3 linked regions of the Homo sapiens genome follow. The protein of the gene in region 1 interacts with the protein of each later gene in a pairwise test. Each region holds a gene or a part of one and is shown in the gene's direction. Other genes may lie near its edges.

Region 1 (7,021 bases):
CGATCTCGGCTCACTGCAATCTCCATCTCCTAGGTCCAAGCGATTCCCCTACCTCAGCCTCCTGAGTAGCTGGGTCTGCAGGCACATGCCACCACACCTAGCTAATTTTTTGTATTTTAGTTGAGACGGAGTTGCACCATGTTGGCCAGGATGGTCTCAATCTCCTGACCTTGTGTTCCGCCTGCCTCGGCCTCCCAAAATGCTGGGATTACAGGCGTGAGCCACTGCTCCCGGCCTAAATGGTTACTTTTTTACAATGAAAAATGAGGATTTCAGGTAGCTTAGAAAGAGAGAGGGAGAAACCAACAGGACAAAAAAACATTTATTCAGTTACTTTTTTTTTTTTTTGAGATGGAGTCTTGCTCTGTCGCCCAGGCTGGAGTACAGTGACGCAGTCTCAGCTCACTGCAACCTCCATCTCTCGGGTTCAAGCGATTCTCCTGCCACAGCCTCCCGAGTAGCTGGGATTACAGGCACCCGCCACATGCCCGGCTAATTTTTGTATTTTTAGTAGAGACGGGGTTTCGCCATATTGGCCAGGCTGGTCTTGAACTCCTGACCTCAGGTGACCCACCCGCCTCGGCCTCCCAAAGTGCTGGGTTTACAGGCGTGAGCCACCGTGCCCAGCCTAAGTGCCCTCTTTGTAAAGTCTGTCTTGTTCTACCTTTCCACACTACCTGGTATTAATTGGAAACTTTAAAGTACCCATTGATTGAAAATATACCCATCCTGGATACATTTTACACTGTATGATTATTTGTAATAGTGCTCCCAATTTTAGTAACAATTGTACAAAATAAAATGGACTCACATTCCAAAATCCTGAAAAGAAACTAAGCTATAAGAAAGTAAGAATTTAAGTTATAGGGAGTGGCTGGGCGCAGTGGCTCACACCTGTAATCTCAGCACTTTGGGAGGCCACGGCAGGCGGATCACCTGAAGTTGGGAGTTCGAGACCAGCCTGACCAACATGGAGAAACCGTCTCTACTAAAAATACAAAATTAGCCAGGTGTGGTGTCTCATGCCTGTAATCCCAGCTACTCCAGGAGTCTGAGGCAGAATTGCTTGAACCTGGGAGGCAGAGGTTGTGGTGAGCTGAGATCGTGCCATTGTGCTCCAGCCTGGGCAACAAGAGCAAAACTCCATCTCTAAATAAATAAATAAAAGAGAGAGAACAGCCGCATCAGGGTCCTGAGAGCACTACCTTTGGGAAACGCTCTTCAAATTTTAACTTTTTTTTTTTTAAATGTAATTTTAAAAATTATCAAAACAATATGGTTGCCTTTTAGAAATATTGGAAAATTGAGAAAAGAAAATTAAGTCACACCAGCCTACCACACGGTATAGCTACGGTCATAGCTGTATGAATCTCCTTTTACTTTTTCTGATGCTTATTATAACTAGTTTTAATAATAGCAAGTATATAATTTTGTATTTTATTTTTATAATTTAACATGTCAGTCACTTGTTGTTGCATTGTCTTCATAGCATTTGTTTGTTGGTTTGTTTTTTGAGATAGAGTCTTGCTCTGTCGCCCAGGCTGGAGTGCAGTGGTCTGACCTTGGCTCACTGCAACCTCCACCTCCTGGGTTCAAGGGATTCTCCTGCCTCAGTCTCCCGAGTAGCTGGGATTACAGGTGCCTGCGACCATGCTCAGCTAATTTTTGTATTTTTAGTAGAGAGGGGGTTTCACTATGTTGGCCAGGCTGGTCTCGAACTATTGACCTCAAGTGATCCACCTGCTTCAGCCTATCAAAGTGCTGGGATTACAGTTGTAAGCCACCACACCCAACCCTTCACAGCATATTTTGAAGTGACAGTGCCATATTTAATCAACCATTCCCTAATTGGGGGTGTGTGTGTGTGTATACATTGCTTCCAGTTGTTTATTACATAGGATAAGACGGACATCTTTGGACATAGCTCTATCCATATTTAAGATAGTTTTTTAGATTATTAGAGGTTGAAATACTGCATCAAAGCGTAGTATTTTTATGGGTTTTGATGCCTGTTGAGCTTGTTGTATTTTAAAAGAAGTGTTTCGGTTTGAATTCTTTATTTGCTTGCTTGTTGTGATTTTTTTTGTATATGTAAAGAAGTGTCTTTATGTACCTGTGTTTTCCCACTGCTCTTAATGCCCCCTCTCTCTTTTTTACCCCTATTCTAGGTTACATTGATTACCCACCTAGTACAACATCTTACGGGAAGAGCATAGTATTTCCTAGAGGAATATGAACATAACAGGAAGGTATCATTGGCTCTGAATTAAATTTGAACTTGTCCCCTGAATAGCTACAGGTTTTGGAAGCTGAATCAATGTTATCAGATGAGTTAGAATCCAAACCAGAGGTGAGCCCAGTCAGCTTGTTTCCTTTTCTTTTGGTGGGCTATATTTCAAAGTTTATCTTCAGTTTAGGGGGTCAGCAAACTTTTTCTTTAATGGGCCAGATAATAAATATTTTAGGTTTTTTAAGCTATATGGTTTTGATTGTTACTATTTTTTCAAAGATTTAAAAATTATATTTTTTGTGATTGTTTTTATATCTGTTTTTCAGTATATGTGAAATCATACATTTAGATAATGTAATAAAATCTTATAAATAAAAATATATGTTTATGTATAAATATATACATAAATATGAGATACATGTGATGTATAGGTGTATAAGTATATAAATATTTACTACTACAAATTCTTTTGTTTATTTTATATATATCTGTAAGTATTTTCTTTCTAAATGTGATTGGGGATTTAAACATTTTTTGTTGTTCACTTTTCTTACTTTAAATTTAGCACATCTGTGTTGCAGAGTGGTCACTGAATTTGGAATCAGATTACTTAAATTTGAGGATTGGCATTGCTCCTAACTAGTCTTGTGACCTTAGACAAGTCACTTAATGTCTTCAATTTTATTCCTCAGCTGTAAAATATGCCTTAAGTTTGGGTGCGGTGGCTCACGCCTGTAATCCCAGCACTTTGGGAGGCCGAGGCAGGTGGATCATGAGGTCAGGAGTTCAAGACCATCCTGCCTAACATGGTGAAACCCTGTCTCTACTAAAAATACAAAAAAAATTAGCTGGGCGTGGTGGCGGGCACCTGTAGTCCCAGCTACTTGGGAGGCTGAGGCAGGAGAATGGCGTGAACCCAGGAGGTGGAGCTTGCAGTGAGCCAAGATCATGCCACTGCACTCCAGCCTGGGCAACAGAGCAAGACTCTGTCTCAAAAAAAAATACATCTTAAATCTTACTGGGTTAATGCGATAATTAAATGAGCCAGTACACAGAAAAGTGTTTTGTAAAATGTAATCAATATGATGCAGTTGATTTTTTTTAAGCCATTATTTTAAAATGTAATTATTTTTATCATTTCTCTGTTTGACAGAAGGTGGCAGAGGTTAACTTAATTACAGTGAAGTGTCACTTAGCGATAGAGATACATTCTGAGAAATATGATGGTAGTTGATATCATTATTATGCGAACATGGTAGAGTATACTTACACAAACCTGTATGGTTTAGCCTGCTACACTCTAGGCTGTATGGTATACCTTATTGCCCCTAGGCTGCAAACCTATACAGCATGTTACTGTACTGAATACTGTAGGCAGTTGAAGCACAGTGGTAAACATTGTGTATCTAAACATATCTAAACGTGGAAAAAGTACAATAAAAATAGGATATTACAATCTCACAGGACCATCATCCTATATGTGGTCTGTTAACTGAAATGTCGTTTTGCAGCACATGACTTTATATAAATCAGCTGTTCTCTAGAACAGAGAACTTGATAAAATAACTTTAGATATTATGTTGTTTAGTTTTTGTTTGAATATGGATGAGACTAGTGAACAGTCTTAATATTATCTTTTGGTAAATTCAAAGGTTTAGATACATTTCTAACAACTCGTATTTCTCAGTGTTGTCTTTTCTCCCCCCAGCTCCTGGTACAGTTTGTTCAGAATACGTCCATCCCATTGGGACAGGGGCTTGTAGAATCAGAAGCTAAAGATATTACTTGCTTGTCCCTCCTTCCCGTGACTGAAGCCTCAGAATGCAGTCGGCTAATGTTACCAGGTAAAAATTAAGATCACTAGAAATAGGATAAAGAAGTCTTAAGAGCTTAGCCTACTCTATGTTACTGGTGGAATGAATATATCGTTTAATAACTGACTGGTGGAAACTGTAAAAATTAGGAGTCATGGAGAAAAAGCAACCATGAAATCATTAGTGCATTGGTAGTTTAAGCCATAGGAATGGATATGATCACCCAGAGAGTGTGAGAGTGGGGAAAAAAGGTCAGTGCAAAACTATGGAACTCTTTATTTAAGGTACAGGGTAGGGCAGGAGAACTTGTAAAGGAGGGAAGAAACAAAGACTAAAATAGTTGGATGAACATCAGCAGAGTGGAGGCATGAAACCCAGGAGAAATCATTGTATCAAATGCTACTGACAGGCCCAGTGAAATAGGGACTAAAAGGACTCCATTATTGACTTTGGCAGAACCTGTTCCATGGAGAGAAGAGGATGGAAAGTCAGGCTGCAGTGACTTGAGTATACATACTTGCTTTTTTTTTTTTTTTTGAGATGGAGTGTCACTCTGTCGCCCAGGCTGGAGTGTAGTGACGCAATCTTGGCTCACTGCAACCTCCGCCTCCCCTCCCAGGTTCAAGCTATTCTCCTGCCTCAGCCTCCTAAGTAGCTGGGATTACAGGTGCGTGCCACTATGCCTGGCTAATTTTTGCATTTTTAGTAGAAACGGGGTTTCACCATGTTGGCCAGGCTGGTCTTGAACTCCTGACCTCCAGTGATCAGTCCGCCTTGGCCTCCCAAAGTGCTGAGATTACAGGCGTGAGCCACTGCGCCAGGCCTATCAATACATACTTTCTAAAGTCTCTCCTGGTACGAGAAGGAAAAAGAGAAGGCGGTAAGATAGAGGGAAATTTTTTGTTTGTGTTAAGATCTGAGATATTTGAGGGTTGCTTTATGCTAAGGGGAAAGAACCAGTTAGAAAAGTTGAAGACAGGCCAGGTGTGGTGGCTCGTGCCTGTAATCCCAGCACATTGGGAGGCTGAGGCAGGAGGATAGCTTGAGCCCAGGAGATTGAGACCAGCCTGGGCAACATGGCGAGACCTCGTCTCTACAAAAAATTAAAAATTAGCTGGGCATGGTGGTGTGCAGCTGTAGTCCCAGCTGAGGTGGGAAGATCACTTGAGCCCAGGAGTTTGAGGCTGCAGTAAGCTGTGATCACACCACTGTACTCCATCCTGGGTGGATAGAGCAACACCCTGTCTAAAAGAAATAGTAATAAATTTAAAAAATATATGTATAAACAAACAATAATTAAGGAAATGAAAACAACAGCGTTCATCTTCCCTTAGAATGACTGTTATCTTAAAGATGGAAGATAACAAGTGTTGGTAAGGATATGGAGAAAAGGGAACCTTTGTACACTGTTGGTGGGAATGTAAGTTAGTACAGCCATTATGGAAACCGTATGGAAGTTCCTCAGAAAACTAAAAATGGAGCCACTATATGACCCAGCAATCTCACTTGTAGGTATATATCCAAAGGAATTGAAATCAGTAAGTCAAAGATGTCTATACTTACATGTTAATTGCAGCATTATTCACAATAACCAAGATATGGAATCAGCTTTAGTGTTCATCAACTAATGAATGCATTTAAAAAAAAATGCATTCACCTTCTTTTCCACATTTCTTTTAGTTTTAATTTTGATTTAAAGTATTTTAGACATACAAGTATAGATAAAAGTAAATGAAAATCCAAATACTTGGCCTCCCAGCTCATAAAACACAATATTACAGGCCGGGCGTGGTGGCTCATGCCTATAATCCCAGCACTTTGGGAGGCCGAGGTGGGTGGATCACTTAAGGTCAGGAGTTTGAGACCAGCCTGGCTGGTGAAACCCTCTCTACTAAAAATGCAAAAGTTAACCAGGTGTGGTGGCACAGAAAAAATAACCGCAGCCTGAGATACAACCATAGGTAAAAAGGTAATGGCAAAAACTGCAATAGCTTTTGCACCAACCTAATACAAAAGTTAAGGAGAGGGAGCTCTCTCCAGGAAAAATAAAATGTAGATCCTATTCTTGAGTTAGTATTCATTGTATAGCTATATTTTTCAAGGAGAAAGTACTGATTTCTGGCCTCAAAAAGGACTAAATTCTGTGATGTCCAAATGTTGAATGGTTGGTTATTCACCAACCATTACTGCCAAGTGACAGAGAATTCTGTTCCTCACGTTTTGGCTGACTGCCTTTGGAACATAAAGCCATCTCTCTGTTCTTCTGTGAGACAAAGTTTTTATTTGTGTAATGAGAATGCTGTCTGTTGCTATAAGGATGTTAGCTTCCAAGAGATGTTGGGTGCTGTGTATCAAAATGGTGGGCTCCTAGAGATAGGTGCTACATAAAGCTGTGGTATTTTCCCTTTACTAGATGATACTACAAATCATTCTAACTCCTCCAAGGAGGTCCCTTCCTCAGCTGTTTTGAGAAGCCTTCGGGTGAATGTGGGTCCAGACGGAGAGGAGACGAGAGCTCAGACTGTACAGAAATCCCCGGAGTTTTTGTCCACTTCAGAGTCTTCTAGCTTGTTGCAAGATCTACAGCCAAGTGATAGCACTTCTTTTATTCTTCTTAACCTAACAAGAGCAGGTATTCTTTCCTTTTTTTTGGGCTCTGCTTATGCCTAAGAAAAAAATTAGGGGTGGGGCATATTTAACTTAGTCATACTTAAAATAGAAAGAACCTTTATTATTTTATTATTTTGGAGAATTGGTGTGTCTGGTGACCATTTGAATATGTAGAGGGAGAGGGAGGACTCTAGTATGACTCATATCTTGTTTGGGAAATTATGTAGTGCCATTTACTGAGATCGCACAGGAAGAGCAAGGCTTGGGGGAGGATGATTAGTTCCAATTTGCACCTATTTATGTTGAGATTTTGGAGGTATATTCAGGAGGACATGTCCTTTAGAGAGTTAGAAACATGAATCCAGAG
Region 2 (7,119 bases), on another chromosome or scaffold:
GATTAACCTGAAAAAAATAAAACAATAATAACAGCCTACCTGAAGCTTTAACTCTGTTCTATACATGATAAATACAAGAATGAATGTCAGGAGAAACCTCAAAGGCTTTCTTTGACATTAGCAGCAAACAGAAACAACAGTAACAGAAACAACAGTAACTAAGGCCTTTGTTTACTGTTTTGGATACTACAAATAAGCACTGTCATGCTCTGTTAATACATCCTATTATCTGTCTCTAAAAAATACAACTGCTAAATTAGTGACATCATAGAAGAGCCATAGAATACATTGTGAGTAATAAAAAACTCTTTTTGTAAAGGCAATGGCCTCTGTGTCTGTCATCTTACCATAACTGATAAAAACAAATCCTGGGTTCATATTAAAATAGTCTAAGCATATTATTAAAAATGTTCCTACCTGTATACTCCGTTTCTTTGAATGCTTCAAATACTGTCACTAGTTTTTGCATCAATACTTCCTCTTGTATATATGTATTATATATTCATTCATTTATTCATCAAAATATCTACACAATGCTAGGCCATACAGGAGAGACAACAATGGAAGACAAAATCCTTCCCCTCATGGAATTTATACTCTAGGAATTACAGTGATGAGTGAGGTGAAAGGGTATATATTTTACTTCATTTGAATCCCTACTTTTCTTCTCAGTGTTTCACATATACAAATATTTCATAACATTTGCTGAATGAGAAAATGATTTGGCCAGGCGTGGTGTCTCATGTCTGTAATCCTAGTACTTTGGGAGGCTGAGATGGGAGGATCACTTGAGCCCAGGAGTTTAAGACCATCCTGGGCAATATATTGAGACCTCGTCTCTATGAAAAAAAATGTTTTCTATAAAAAATAAAAATAAAAGAAAATGATTCCTTTCCTTTGTGCATCAGAAGCCATTTTCTCTATCCTTTATTATTGAATGGTTGTTTATAGTTAAGAGACTTTCAATGGGCTTATCTCACTTGATAAATATCATAAAGTAGACCAATGTTGTATGATACAGTAATTCAAGCAGTTGGACTTCACTGAATGAGCAACCTTACTCACTAATCACTGGTAATGCCTGGAGCTGACATTATTTCACACCTGTCATACATATCATTAAAAAAACAGAAACAAAAATCAAGAACATCTGAAGGAGGAGAAAAAAATTATACTTCTCTACCCTTGATTCAATAATTTTGCAAATATTTTCACATTAAAGCAGACTGGATATATGTGAAACTGGGGATGGGGGAAGATAGAGGGAATGATTTCAAGGGCATTGATATAACCGATAGCACTGAAAGTTAAATAAGTCATGGAAATTGTTGGCTAAGGTCCTTAAGGGGCTCTAAGGAGGCCCTAAGGCCCTACAGTCCTATGGGGTAATCAGTTGCTCTCTCAGTGGGAACTTAAACTATGTCCCAGAAACTGGCTCTAGATCTCTAATCTACATCTCTTGCAAGTAAGTAATTACTAATATTTTATATTTTAAACATAGGTAACATCTTATAAGGAAGGACAGGAGTCTGGATTTTTTCTCAGTGTCTCACTTTCTTACCTATACAAGGGAATCAGATTACCTATCAAAGCAGATATTACTGTTGCAAATTCAACATTCATCTATTTATCTCCCTTTTCTGCCTTTTTAACACAGCCCTAATTTCATGCATTCTCCCCAGAGTGTCTGTGTCCTTTAGGAGAGGCTGGCCTTCTCCTTAGCCCTGGGATATAAATTTCAATTGTCCTAATCCCACCATGGAGGCCTTACCTCCCTTGTTAGTGATAGACATAAGCACTCAAAGCAATTTCAGTTAATAAGACATGATGGAGAAATCTATCAGGGAAAAAGAGTTTCCTTAATCGTATAAAGGGGCAAAAGATAAAGGTGTTCCCCTTTTTGGTCTCTGAACATTATCTGTAATCTGGAACTGAGGAAATCATTTTAGGACCATAAAGGAAGCCAGACTGGAGAACAACACACTTAAAGATGGCAGAGCCAAAAGAAGGAAGAAACCTGTGTCCTTGACAATATTGTCCAGATGCAGAAGTAACCAACCCTGGGAATGATTTTATCTCCATGCATCTAGCTATTAGGATTTGTTTTTAAAAGGCTTGAACAATAAGGACATTTAGTAAGGTTCCTGTTACTGCAGCCAAAAGCATTTCAACTGATATGCCTTCTCTCTTTCAATAGTTTCACTCTTACATAGTAGGTTTCTCAATATAACAAGGTGTGTTAGGTTGGATGCAAAGATAACTGCCAAAATTTCCTCCTATGATCAAGCTGCTTAATGTCTATTTCCCTTTTCCACCATTCTAGTCCTTCTGTCATGGAATACTGCAGAAAAATATAATGCCAGTTCCAGACTCAGGCTTTAAGAGAATTAGCATCTTTCCTCCTCCTTAACTCTCTTGGAAGCCAGTCACCATGTAAGAAAGCTTAGGCTAAACTCCTGAATGGAGAGAGGCCTTGTGGAGAAGAATCAAGTAACTTCAACCAAGAGGCAACACCAAGACTTCAGCAATTTGAGTGAAGCCATCTTGGACCTTCCACCCCAGTTAAGTGAAGATAGCTGACACATCATAAAGCAGACTAGCCATCTCCGCTAAGCCCTTCCTGAATTCCTGGCAACAGAACTGTGAGCAATAAAACATCTGCTGTTTTTAGTCACTAAGTCTTGAAGTGGTTCATTATGAAGCAATTGATAATTTATAAACAAATTAATATTATTTGGTTTTTTGCTTTGTAAAATTGCTGTAGTCATTTCACAATGATAAAATTATTTAGTGAGTCACTAATAGCTTTGAATGCTAACGAACATTTTTCTCAAATATGTGTTTTAAGTCTTGGCTCACAAAGGAGAATTTGTTTCTATGTATGTATGTATCGCTTTGTTATTATCCTGTGTACTTTTTTAATATAACATTTTAAAAATATGTAACATTTAAACATGTAAAATGTAACGTTTTAAAAATAAATACAAATAAATGGGAAACGATTTGCAACAAACGAGTTGCTATCCTTAATAAGCAAAAAATTCTCACAAATAAAAAAGAAAAATCTTACTCCCTTAATTTTTTAAATGGGAAAAGCCATCTCTGAAGAACCATAAATGGTCAGTAAACATGAAGGGGGACTATCTTAAGCTCACAAAGTTGAAACATGAGGCATCATTTTTCACCGACTAAATAGCCAAAGAAAAATTTAAACAGTGAGACAATACCAGCAAGCTTCCACTGAAGAACGGGAAGACCCTAAGATAGGCTCCAGGAGTCTACGATACCAGTCTCCTTGAACTATGGGGACGTGGACGTCCCTGGTCACAAGTTGCCTGACTTTGGGCGATGTCTACGGCTGTAAATTTGGGATTATATAGCCACAGCACAGAACTGTTGTAAGGCTCCAGTGATACTCATAGGCAAAAGCAATATAAGTGACTGTTAGTTTTTGTTCAGCCTATTCATCCTTACATTTACTTTTGTCGGAAAAGAACTGGAATCACAGGAAAATCTGAGGTTTTTTTTTTTTTTTTTTTTTTGAGACAGAGTCTCGCTCTGTCGCCCAGGCTGGAGTGCAGCACATCTCAGTTCACTGCAAGCTCCGCCTCCCGGGTTCACGCCATTCTCCTGCCTCAGCCTCCCGAGTAGCTGGAACTACAGGCGCCCGCCAACATGCCCAGCTAAATTTTTGTATTTTTAGTAGAGACGGGGTTTCACCGTGTTAGCCAGGATGGTCTCTATCTCCTGACCTCGTGATCCGCCCGCCTCGGCCACCGCGCCCGGCCGAAAATCTGAATATTTTAATGGAAAACTGGGAGTGAGATTCGGGAATTACTTGAGACCAACAATGATGGGTGGTGCCAGGAGAAAGCCAGGGTGGGAACGGCCCAGGCGAGATGCGGGACCCTCCAGGTGCCGCCGCTCACAAGGACCCCTGACTCCTAGCGCACCCTCCCCTGGCCTTGGAGATTCCGCCGGGCTAGCGGCTACCGGGAGAAGGCGGTGGAAACTGTAGAGCCCGCGGCTCTGATTGGCTACCTCAGAGCAAGGGGCGGGGCGGCGGAGGACCCGAAGGGCGCGAGAGCGGAACACTGCGTACGCGCACTTCCGGTCTTTGTGGCTTGCAGCTCGGGGTGGGTGGCTCATTTCCTGGCCGCTCCTGGGCTTCGCGGTGAGGGACGTGGGCCCCTAGGAAGAGGGAGGTGGGGTTGGGAGCGCGCGCCGGACAGTGGAGGAGCTCCGCTCCTCGGCCTGCCCATCCCCAGGTCGCGGCCCTTTGGCCCGCGCGGCGTCTCCAAGCGACTGGGGAACTCAGAGGAGGCCAGCACTCAAACTCCTGCTTTCCAAAGGAAAACGCAGTTCCGCTGACCCCGTGACTTCGTAAATGCTGCGGTTTAACCAAGGATATAAAAATAGAAGGGCTAGTTAGTTAGTTAGTTAGTGCGGCCGGACTGGTTAAACCTTAAATTTGTAGGCTAAATATTTTAATTCATCTCTTAACGTTAACCGTAGTGTGAGGAATGAATTTTACTCATCTGTCCTGACAAACTAAGGGCATACATTCCTATCGATATCTCGCCATCCTAAAAGCAGGTCAAGTTTGGTCTGTGTCACAACATTTAATACCTATTTGTTACCATATTTTGCTTTTGAACATTTTTAGTCTTGGGATATTCTAAGCTTTTTCAGAACTGATACGGATCTCTTTGCTGCTTTTGTGTATGTGATACCTATCATGTTTTTGAACACATGGTAAGCATTTTACAGATACGTCTTGGTTCTTGGTCAATTCCTCTGTAGACTCGTTTATTCATAAGCAAAAATCTTAATGCTCAGTAAGTGCCTCAGTGTTTGTTGAAGTAATTCGGTAAACACCAAATGCGATCAAATGACAAATATCCAATATTTACATCAACTCATGTTTAATGTGAACTTTTAAAAAAACGTTATTACTGCCTTAAATGAAAATCAACATTACTTGCTTTAGATAGAAAGTAAGTAAAAATAAATGTTTAAAATCAGTATTACTAAATTCTGCCTAAATATTTTTACTCTTGGAAGTCTGATTCTGAAGCCTGTATTTTATTTAAAAGAGAGTTCTACAAGTTTTATTAATACATACATGTTAAAGATAGACTTTTCTCCTTGATACAATCAGAATTGAAAGAATTGGAAAGGAAATTTTCTCACTATGTGATTGATGTTAATGTTGCATTCACATTCTTAGGCTTCTAAAATAGTTTTTTCTAACATTAGTGGTAGGAATTCTTCATAATGGGAGACACTAATTGAGGTTAATGATTTTTAGTTTATCATCACATTATTGTTTTATTTAGTGATAGCCCCAAATCTACTCCCTTTCAATATATTACTAAAGTTACTCATCTTTCTTATTACAAGTACTTAGAGATTTTATTGATTGCTGTAAGTTAACTGCTTTTATATCCTTCAGGAAAGAAGAGATTACTCACACTCCTTCGCAAGCACAGAACCAGTTGTACTGAGCTTTTTGCTAAGCTGTTTCAGCCAAGAATGGCTGTGGAATCTGGAGTGATTTCAACCCTGATACCTCAGGATCCTCCGGAACAAGAACTAATACTAGTGAAAGTAGAAGATAACTTTTCCTGGGATGAGAAATTTAAGCAGAATGGGAGTACTCAATCCTGCCAAGAATTGTTTCGTCAGCAATTCAGAAAATTTTGCTACCAGGAGACACCTGGGCCCCGGGAGGCTCTGAGCCGACTCCAGGAACTTTGCTATCAGTGGCTAATGCCAGAGTTGCACACAAAGGAGCAGATCTTAGAACTGCTGGTACTGGAGCAGTTCCTGAGCATTCTGCCTGAGGAGCTGCAGATCTGGGTTCAGCAACATAATCCAGAAAGCGGCGAGGAAGCTGTGACCCTGTTGGAGGATTTAGAGAGGGAGTTTGATGACCCAGGGCAGCAGGTGGGAACGGAGAAAAGTGATGTGGGAAAAGGAATTTACAGCCTGGAGCATGTAATGGTATCATAACAGTAGGATAAAAATTTTTATGTCTCTACTGAACCCTAACCTGAAGTGACTAATAGAGCCATACTTGTCTATACCCTTGAATGGTCTTTTTCCCCTGTCCTTCATCCCTGGAGATGTCATCATTGACCTCTTTGAGATTTTTACTAAGCAAGTTTTCTTAGGGATTTTCTCACAAAGCTAACCATATTTTACTGATTTCAGGTCCCAGCTAGTCCACAGGGACCAGCAGTGCCATGGAAGGATTTAACATGTCTCAGAGCATCCCAAGAGTCAACAGACATCCACCTCCAGCCCTTAAAGACACAGCTGAAATCCTGGAAACCATGCCTTTCCCCTAAAAGTGGTGAGGAATGGGAAATCATCTGGAAACTCTTGACACTTAGGCCTCTGTTTTTGAGAATGCAGAATTAATTGCACTTGACAAACTTGCCACATGTGAGCATCACCTTTATTATTCTAAACCAGAGGTGCTCGCTTTAGCGGCTTTGTATTCACCCCTCATGAATTGCTGTCAGCCCTCCTGTGTGAGTTTCCCTGTTATTCATTCATTCATTTCATTATGTTGTAACTTTATAAAGCGTCAATACATGTCTGGTACTGTGGTAGGCCCCAGGAGAGGTTTCAGGTCTAGGTGGGTGATGGACAAATAAAAAGGCAGTTGCAATGTAGTAAATTATAGAATATAAGTAGGCAGTGGGTACTGTTGGAGCACATCTAAAGGCACCTAACCCAATCTTAGAGGATCAAGGAACACTTCCTGAAGGAAGAAAATCTAAGCTAAGACTTGAACTATGAGTAAGAGAAAGCCAGGTAAATAGGTGGGAGGAGGAGTAGCCCAAGTAAAGGCCATACCATCCCGAAGGTGTGAGAATATAACCCATTCTGAAAATTGCAGGTAGTTTAATTTGACTTGAATGGAGAATTGACAGGTGGTAAGAGAAGAACCAGAGAGGAAAATAGGATCCAAGTCATGAAGACCTGTATGTCATGTTAATTTGTTTGTATAGTTTCTTAAGTGCAGTGGGATGCAGTTGAAGGATTTTGGACAAGGAGTGACATAGTTTGATTTGCAGTTTAGAAGTTAGCTGCAAATGGAGAATCATG
Region 3 (7,506 bases), on another chromosome or scaffold:
CAGAATGATTGAAGAGCCTTATTGGTTTAATGTTAACCTTTGTATTGTAGTTTAAAAGATACAATTTCTACTCTTCCTTCTTGTTTTTGATTTGTGGCCCCATTCAGAATATGAGAAAAAAAAAAGACCCAACAAAATAAGGAAGATCAGGTAAGAACAGAATGAAACACATAGACAGCAACACATATCGATTCACAACACAACTGGGACACAGAGATAAGAGAACACAGTGAAAGAGAATGAGACGACGTAAGAGTCTCTGCGTTGGGGGGAGGGGAGAGGGCTATCTGGAGTGTAGCGTTGTTAGCCCCATCTTGTGGCTTTTTTGGATATTGCCTCTAAGGTTAATTTTTGAACCACTAACCAACCATAGCTGGAGACCCAACAACTTGTTGGGTGAATAGATCTAGGATAATTGCTTTCAAACTTTCTTGCACCTCAGAATCACCTAGCATGCAAGTGAAAATGAAGATTCCTGGGCCTCACTTTCCACAAGAGAGATGAGTAGATTAAAGTGGGCCCAGGAAACTGCTTTTAGAAAACTCCCCAGGTAATTGCAGGAGAACCATGAACCACATTTAAGAAACACTGAAGGCAATTAGAGTTAGTGGTATTCATCCCTTGTCATTGTGAGGAAAGGACTATGCTGAGGAAAAGTGTGGAAAGAAATTATTAAGAACTTTAAAGGTCTGAGATTTTACCCTACTTGCAAGCTAATGTGTGGGCCAAGGGAAAACGTCTCCTTTGCCCCTTGAAGTTTCACTGCAAATCACTGACAAAAAGGTTAAGAAGAGGAAAGGGATAGAAGTTTATTTATTTTTTTGAGACAGGGTCTGGCTCTGTCACCTGGGCTGGAGTGCACTGGCACAATCTCGACTCACTGCCACCTCCCGGATTCAAGCGATTCTCCCACCTCAGCCTCCAGAGTAGCTGGGACTGTTAATGGTGGAGGGTGTCCAGGTTATTGGCATCTTGAACAAAGAATTGGAAAAAACGCACAAACTAAGCAGGGAAGGCATGAAGGGTTTTATGGAAAATGAAAGTAAACTCCACAGTGTGGGAACCGGCCTGAGATAGGGGCTCAAAGGCCCCATTACAGAACTTTTGGGGGTTTAAATACCCTCTGGAGGACTCCATTGGTTACCTGGGGTACGCCCTATGTAAATGGAGAGGATGAAGTAAAGTTACAAAGTTATTTACTTGGCCTACGCCCTATGGGGAGGATATTTGCTGTCGCAGCTGAAGTGTGAATTGGCCTTATGTTCCCTGCCTCCAGACCCTATTTTCCTGCCTCAGGCTATAGGCGCACACCACCACACGCGCCCGTTGTATTTTTTGTAGAGACGGGGTTTTGCTATGTTGCCCAGGCTGGTTTTGAACTTGTGAGCTCAAGGCCTTCTTCGACCTCCCAAAGTGCTGGGGTTACAGGTGTGAGCCACCACTGGCACCTGGCCCGATCCGCCATGCCTGGCCTGATCATAGTTTTATGTGACATGGGAGCCTTCAGAATGAAGACCTAAAGATAGACTGGAAATGGCTCATTTTCATGCTTAGGTTCAGCAAAGTATGAGTAGCTGTGTAGAAATATGATTGAACAAAAGGGTATGAGCTAATGTTAATAAACTGAGTGGGGAACCTAGGCCTGTCTGTCTAGATTTTTCTTGGCCTCTACGAACATGCATTTCTTCCTTCCAGGTATGTTACAGGTAGTTAGACAGGCATGAGCAGGGCAGGAGAGGACTCTACCCTCCCCAATCCCCTCAAGCAAGAATGCCAGGTGATGGTTTCACAGTTATCACACTGCCTTTCTAAAATGGATAATTTGGCAGATGGGCCAGAGAGAGGGAGAGAGACAATTCCCTGATGGTCCACAGCTGTCACTAAAGTGTTACTTGATGTTAATTGATATTAAAGCAGGTGCCAGGCATAGGCAATTTCCCAAACAGATAAAAACACTTGAGATTGGTAATCAGCTTCCAATAAAATTTCAGAAATTGGGTGAGTGAGCTTGGGCATGCACATTAAGAGACAAAATAGTGGAGTATGACCTTCCGGGGGCATTCCACTGGAAAAGGGAAGAAAGCCTCAGATGGGCATGTGTACAAATTCCTAAGCACATGGTGCATGCTCACCTCCCAAGCATAGGGAGGGCACTGTGCATTCGGGCAGCTCACACTGAGGGAAGAATGAAGGGAGAGGGCAGCAAGACTCCAGAAGTGGGCCAGCATATGAAGTCCCAGGATCAGGGTTAAATGCCACACTTGTCCCTCAAGTTGCCCGCTTGGGTCTCTTCCAAGTGTACTTTCTTTTCTGTCCCAAACTTTTTAATAAACTTCCACTCTTGCTCTGAAACTTGCCTCAGTTGCTTTTTCTGCCTTATGCCCTGTATTAGTCCATTTTCACATTGCTATAAAGAACTGCCTTAGACTGACTGGGTAATTTATAAAGGAAAGAGGTTTAATTGACTCACAGTTCCGCATGGCTGGCGAGGCCTCAGAAAACTTACAATCACAGTGGAAGGTGAAGGTGAAGCAAGACACCTCCTTTGCAAGGCTGCAGGAAGGAGAATGAACACAGGAGGAATTACCAAACACTTATAAAACCATCAGATCTCGTGAGAACTCACTCACTATCAGGAGAACAGCATGGGGGGAAAACCACCCCTGTGATTCAATTACCTCCACCTGGTCTCTCCCTTGACACGTGGGAATTATGGGGATTACAATTCAAGATGAGATTTGGGGTGGGGACACAGCCAAACCATATCATGCCCCTCAGTCTAATTCTTTCTTCCAAGGAGGCAAGAATTGAGGTTGCTGCAGACCCATACAGATTCACTGCTGTTAACTCAGACACCTTCTACCCCTAACAGGTATGGGGTAGGACCCTCTCTGGAATCGGGCTCTTATGGCCTACAGTCAAACAAGGTAGGTCAGATAATTTCTTTATGGCCAGTTATTCCACAGAAAGGCAGAGAGAAAGAGTAATATTTTAAGGTTTCAAGACTGGCTTTAGGAAAAAGGGGTTCTGGTTTCTATGACCTGCCTTGGGGAAAAGGAATTCTAATTTCTATGGCTATCCTTGGGGGACTGAGAGATAGGAGGGCAGAGAAAAATTTCTGCTTTTGAGGCCATTTTGGGGTATTGTTTTCTGAGTTTCAACACTAACAAGTTTGCATGCCAAAATTTCATGAATACTGCTAAAAGATGAAACTCCTGGGTCAGAGACAAAGGATAATACTAACAGCAATAATAGTAGTCACAGTATTGTCATTGGGCCAGTTTCTGAGCCCTAATTCTTGCAAGACTATGTGATGAAGGCTACAGTAGGTTGCATTACAGGAGAGGGGCCCCAAGTTTAGGAAACTCACATCTCTTATAATTGGGAATAAGTCTGCCAGATCTTTGGAGAGACAAGAATTCTGTCTTCCAGGGCTATTCAATGCAGAAACATCCTTGAAAAGATAGTTGGAAAAAGGCAGTCAGTGCCTCTGCTCTCTCAAGACATGCAGGAACATGACACATGTGAATTGTCTCCCAATAGAAAAGGAATGAAAGTGCATCGTGTGAAAAGTATTCTGCATCTGGAGGCTGTAAAGTGATCAAACTGAAGCAGGAATGAAGATCTGAAGGAACCATCCAGGCCTACTGTACCTGGCAAGAATTGAGCATGAACTCTAGTTATCTCAGCTAAACTTTGCAGAAGTCCTCAATTTCACTGTTTTAATGGGCACTTGCCCATTAAAACAGTGGTTGTCATGAGCACTTTCCACATTTATTTCACTTTATCCTCACACTTCATGGAAACAGAGCTATTACAGCCATTGTACTCATGAGTAAATGGACTTTGAAACATGATGACCTGTTCACTTTTTCAACCACAGGACAAGAATCAGGTTTTCTCGGAGCTCTTCTGCCGCCACCCCTCTCTTGTTTCTCCTTACCGCGGCGGGCCAGAAGAAGACTGGCCAAAATAAGTAAACGACTAATGCAAGAGTGGCATAGGTCCTCAAAAAGGCGCTGCAAACTTAAGTGGTGATTGCACTCACGGTGCTTTAAGACCCAGCCACTACTTCGGAAGCAGGAAGTTGGCATCTCTGGTTTCTCCCATCCGCGGGCCTGAGGTTCCCGGGGATTGGTTAAGGTAGAGGCTCCTTTTCCCATTTGCAGCCGGAAGTAGGTTTCCAGTAACACGGAAGCCCTACTACGCCGCCTGGGAGACCCTTCCGTGCTACCCCGGCCAGGGACCCGCCCGGACCTGAGGAGGCGGGAACTGCGGGCAGAAGGCCCACCCCGCTCTCCCAAGATTTCCCGCGCACACCGGAAGTGGGTGGGGCTCCTCCGAGCGCCCCCTCCCTCCCCCTCGCCATCCCCCCCGCACGATTGGCCAGCGCCGCTGTCTCTCAGCGTTCCAGGGGAAGGGACTGGGCGATTCCCAGCACTCGGGTCGCGGGCGTTGGCAGCCGGGCGGGTGGGAGGGGCCGGAGCAAAAGTTCCGGGCGCCCGAGCCGGCTGCTCGTGCCATGGAGCGGAGTCCCGACGTGTCCCCCGGGCCTTCCCGCTCCTTCAAGGAGGAGTTGCTCTGCGCCGTCTGCTACGACCCCTTCCGCGACGCAGTCACTCTGCGCTGCGGCCACAACTTCTGCCGCGGGTGCGTGAGCCGCTGCTGGGAGGTGCAGGTGTCGCCCACCTGCCCAGTGTGCAAAGACCGCGCGTCACCCGCCGACCTGCGCACCAACCACACCCTCAACAACCTGGTGGAGAAGCTGCTGCGCGAGGAGGCCGAGGGCGCGCGCTGGACCAGCTACCGCTTCTCGCGTGTCTGCCGCCTGCACCGCGGACAGCTCAGCCTCTTCTGCCTCGAGGACAAGGAGCTGCTGTGCTGCTCCTGCCAGGCCGACCCCCGACACCAGGGGCACCGCGTGCAGCCGGTGAAGGACACTGCCCACGACTTTCGGGTAAGAGCAGCGATTTGCACGAGGCGGCCGAGCCGGGTCTGGAACCCGGAATCCCTTGGCTCTGCGGCTCCCGCCCCTCCTGCCTGCCAGAGCCCAGTGTGCCCGCGTCTCGCTCCCAGCATGCAGGACCCCACCTCTCCGACCCAGGTTCTCAGGGCTGGCTGCTTCTTCAAGGTCGGCCCAGGGGCCCGTGCTGGGAGAAGAGAATGCGAACGGAAAGTGACAGATGAGGTTACATGATGTTCCCAAGACAGCGACACTTGCTTCTGAAGGGCCCAGGCCATGCACCCCTTGTGCCAGCCGGGTGTGGCCCAGGTCCCTTTAAGCGGCACGGATGTGGGTGCAGCCCACGAGCCCTGTAGCTTGGCACACTCAATTTAGAAGTGGAGGAGGAGCCACAGACCTGGCCAGGGGTGTGGAGTCTTAAGATTTCCCCCAAACCAGTCACCTACTTGCCAAGCTGATCCCGCGGTTTGTATTATCTGAGTGAGAGGTCTCTGACCCTGGCTGGCTGGCCTATTCTGGTTTATAAAGCAGCATCTCCATATCTAGAGTTCTAGTGACTATACATAAACCCAGGAGCAACTTACAGGGCAAAACTAACATGGAGAATTCTTTGATATAGGAAGGAAAAATGAATAGAAGATAAGGGTTAGCCTAACTCAGCATTTTCCAAAACGTTTAATCTTAGCCCATAGGAAGCAATGCATTTTCCCTTGTGACCCAGAACATATGTATCAGTTGAAACAAAAGTTTTCTGAACATGTCCATGGCACTCTGATATTTTCTGTTACTTCCCTTTGTTTTTTTTTTTTTTTGAGACCTCTATCGCCCAGGTTAGAGTGCAGTGGCGTGCTCTTAGCTCACTGCAACCTCCGCCTCCTGGGTTCAAGCGATTCTGGTGCCTCAGCCTCCCGAGTAGCTGAGATTACAGGCATGTACCAACACGCCTGGCTAATTTTTTTTTTTTTTTAATTTCTAGTAGAGGCAGGGTTTCACCATGTTGGCCAGGCTGGTCTGGAACTCCTGGCCTCAAGTGATCTGCCCTCCTCTGCCTCCCAAACTACTGGGATTACAGGCGTGAGCCACTCCGCCTGGCCTCTGTTACTTTTAAAAATTACCCAGAATGTGAAACATTGAATTTATTTCATCACCTGCTAATGCATGAGTCAGAGCCCCAATTGGGAGAACACTGGGTAGCTGGCCCGAAGCTGCATGGACTGGAGAGGAGGAGCTGCCCGAGTCCCCTGTGCCTGGTTTCTGGCCCCCTCTGTGGCCCTGCCTTCTTTTTTTGCAATACCTTTTTAAATACGGAAGTCTGTTCCGCTCCAAATGCATTTGACAAAGTTTAATTGAAGGGGAATGTAAGGATGCTGTCAGTACGCATGTCTCAATGAGTAACCCTGTTACTCCTGTCATCTTTTTTGTTTAACATGGGTCCATGTCAATGCTTTTCCTGTTTCCACTGGCAGAAGTGACAGATCCTGATTTGGGACAGCTGGAATAAGTGCTGGCCAGCCAGGGGTCTGGGGCCCAGGTAAAGGAGGGATCATGGTTCAGGTCATGACTGATGCCTATTTGGCTGGCCGAGGTGCTGATCAGGAGATGCTGGGGTCAGGGCTGAGAACACCCAGGCAGAGCCCCCAGGCTGGGGCCAAGCCAGGATTCAAGAGCAGAGAGCCATGCACCAGCAGATGCCTGGTACTGCAAGGTCCCAGGGATACTGCAGGAGACAAGATAGACCATTTCCAGCCTCAAGGAGCTTCCAGCAGAGACCCGAGGGAAGAGGAGGTGTTAGCCAGGTGAAAGAGGGTATTTCAGATAGAGGCAGCAGCATTTGGAAGGGTCCAGAAGTGGGAAAGCCTGACTTTCTAGGCACTGAGGGAATTTAAGGGTAGTTAGAATGAGGAGGGACGTGCAGGAGGATCCAGGAGGCCGGTGGCTCACCCTTGCTGTGAACAGCAGCTGGGGGTTTTAGCAGAAGAATGATGGTGTCAAGTCAGTGGACACTCAGGATGATGTCAGGGGCTGAGTAGTCTAGTCCCAAATGGATCTGAGAAGAATGAGAGCCAGGTGTGGTCAGCCTGATGCAGGGTGCAAATCACTCATTTACTAGACAAATGGGTACTGATGGCTGTTGTGTGCTGTGGCCTCTTCTTAGCTTCATGGAATTCTCATTTGAGCAGGGGGCATAGACAGTCAATAGACAAGATGTAGTTCTGTGTGATTCAAGGTAGGTGGTTGTGGGGGAGCGGTATGGGAAGATTCCCTCCACCACTTGGTAAGAAGGGACTGGGTAAGAAGCTGTGTGCCTCACTGAGGGGGTTTTCCGTTTTGTGCTGTGGGGAGCTCTGAAAGATTCTAAACAGGGGAGTTTGTGATGGGATGTGTGTTTTAGAGAAAGATTACTTTGCCAACTATCTATGTGAGGAACAGCAAAGTCAAAATCATCCCAGCTAACACATTTCAGTGCTCACTGTGTGCTAGATGCTTTTCAGTGTTCACACGTCAACAAATTTAATGCTCACAAAAACGTATTTTCAGGTCCT

What was found. The genes of interacting proteins can lie anywhere in the genome.
Region 2: the proteins of ZNF410 (region 1) and ZNF397 interact in binary tests that used the Homo sapiens proteins (3 or more experiments, as listed by UniProt).
Region 3: the proteins of ZNF410 (region 1) and TRIM35 interact in binary tests that used the Homo sapiens proteins (3 or more experiments, as listed by UniProt).

What each region holds. Positions count from the first base shown.
Region 1 is NC_000014.9:73,889,859-73,896,879, forward strand, and holds part of ZNF410 (zinc finger protein 410), read left to right. Parts: intron 1-2,168; 5' UTR 2,169-2,317; coding exon 2,318-2,350; intron 2,351-3,938; coding exon 3,939-4,074; intron 4,075-4,500; coding exon of another isoform or gene 4,501-4,551; intron 4,552-6,457; coding exon 6,458-6,676; intron 6,677-7,021. UniProt on the Homo sapiens protein: Transcription factor that binds to the sequence motif 5'-CATCCCATAATA-3', and is specifically required to silence expression of fetal hemoglobin in adult erythroid cells.
Region 2 is NC_000018.10:35,236,936-35,244,054, forward strand, and holds the start of ZNF397 (zinc finger protein 397), read left to right. Parts: upstream 1-4,098; 5' UTR 4,099-4,174; intron 4,175-4,666; exon of another isoform or gene 4,667-4,755; intron 4,756-5,455; 5' UTR 5,456-5,535; coding exon 5,536-5,949; coding exon of another isoform or gene 5,950-6,006; intron 6,007-6,216; coding exon 6,217-6,358; intron 6,359-6,430; exon of another isoform or gene 6,431-6,539; intron 6,540-7,119. UniProt on the Homo sapiens protein: Isoform 3 acts as a DNA-dependent transcriptional repressor.
Region 3 is NC_000008.11:27,308,252-27,315,757, reverse strand, and holds the start of TRIM35 (E3 ubiquitin-protein ligase TRIM35), read left to right. Parts: upstream 1-4,485; 5' UTR 4,486-4,522; coding exon 4,523-4,957; intron 4,958-5,091; exon of another isoform or gene 5,092-5,252; intron 5,253-7,506. UniProt on the Homo sapiens protein: E3 ubiquitin-protein ligase that participates in multiple biological processes including cell death, glucose metabolism, and in particular, the innate immune response.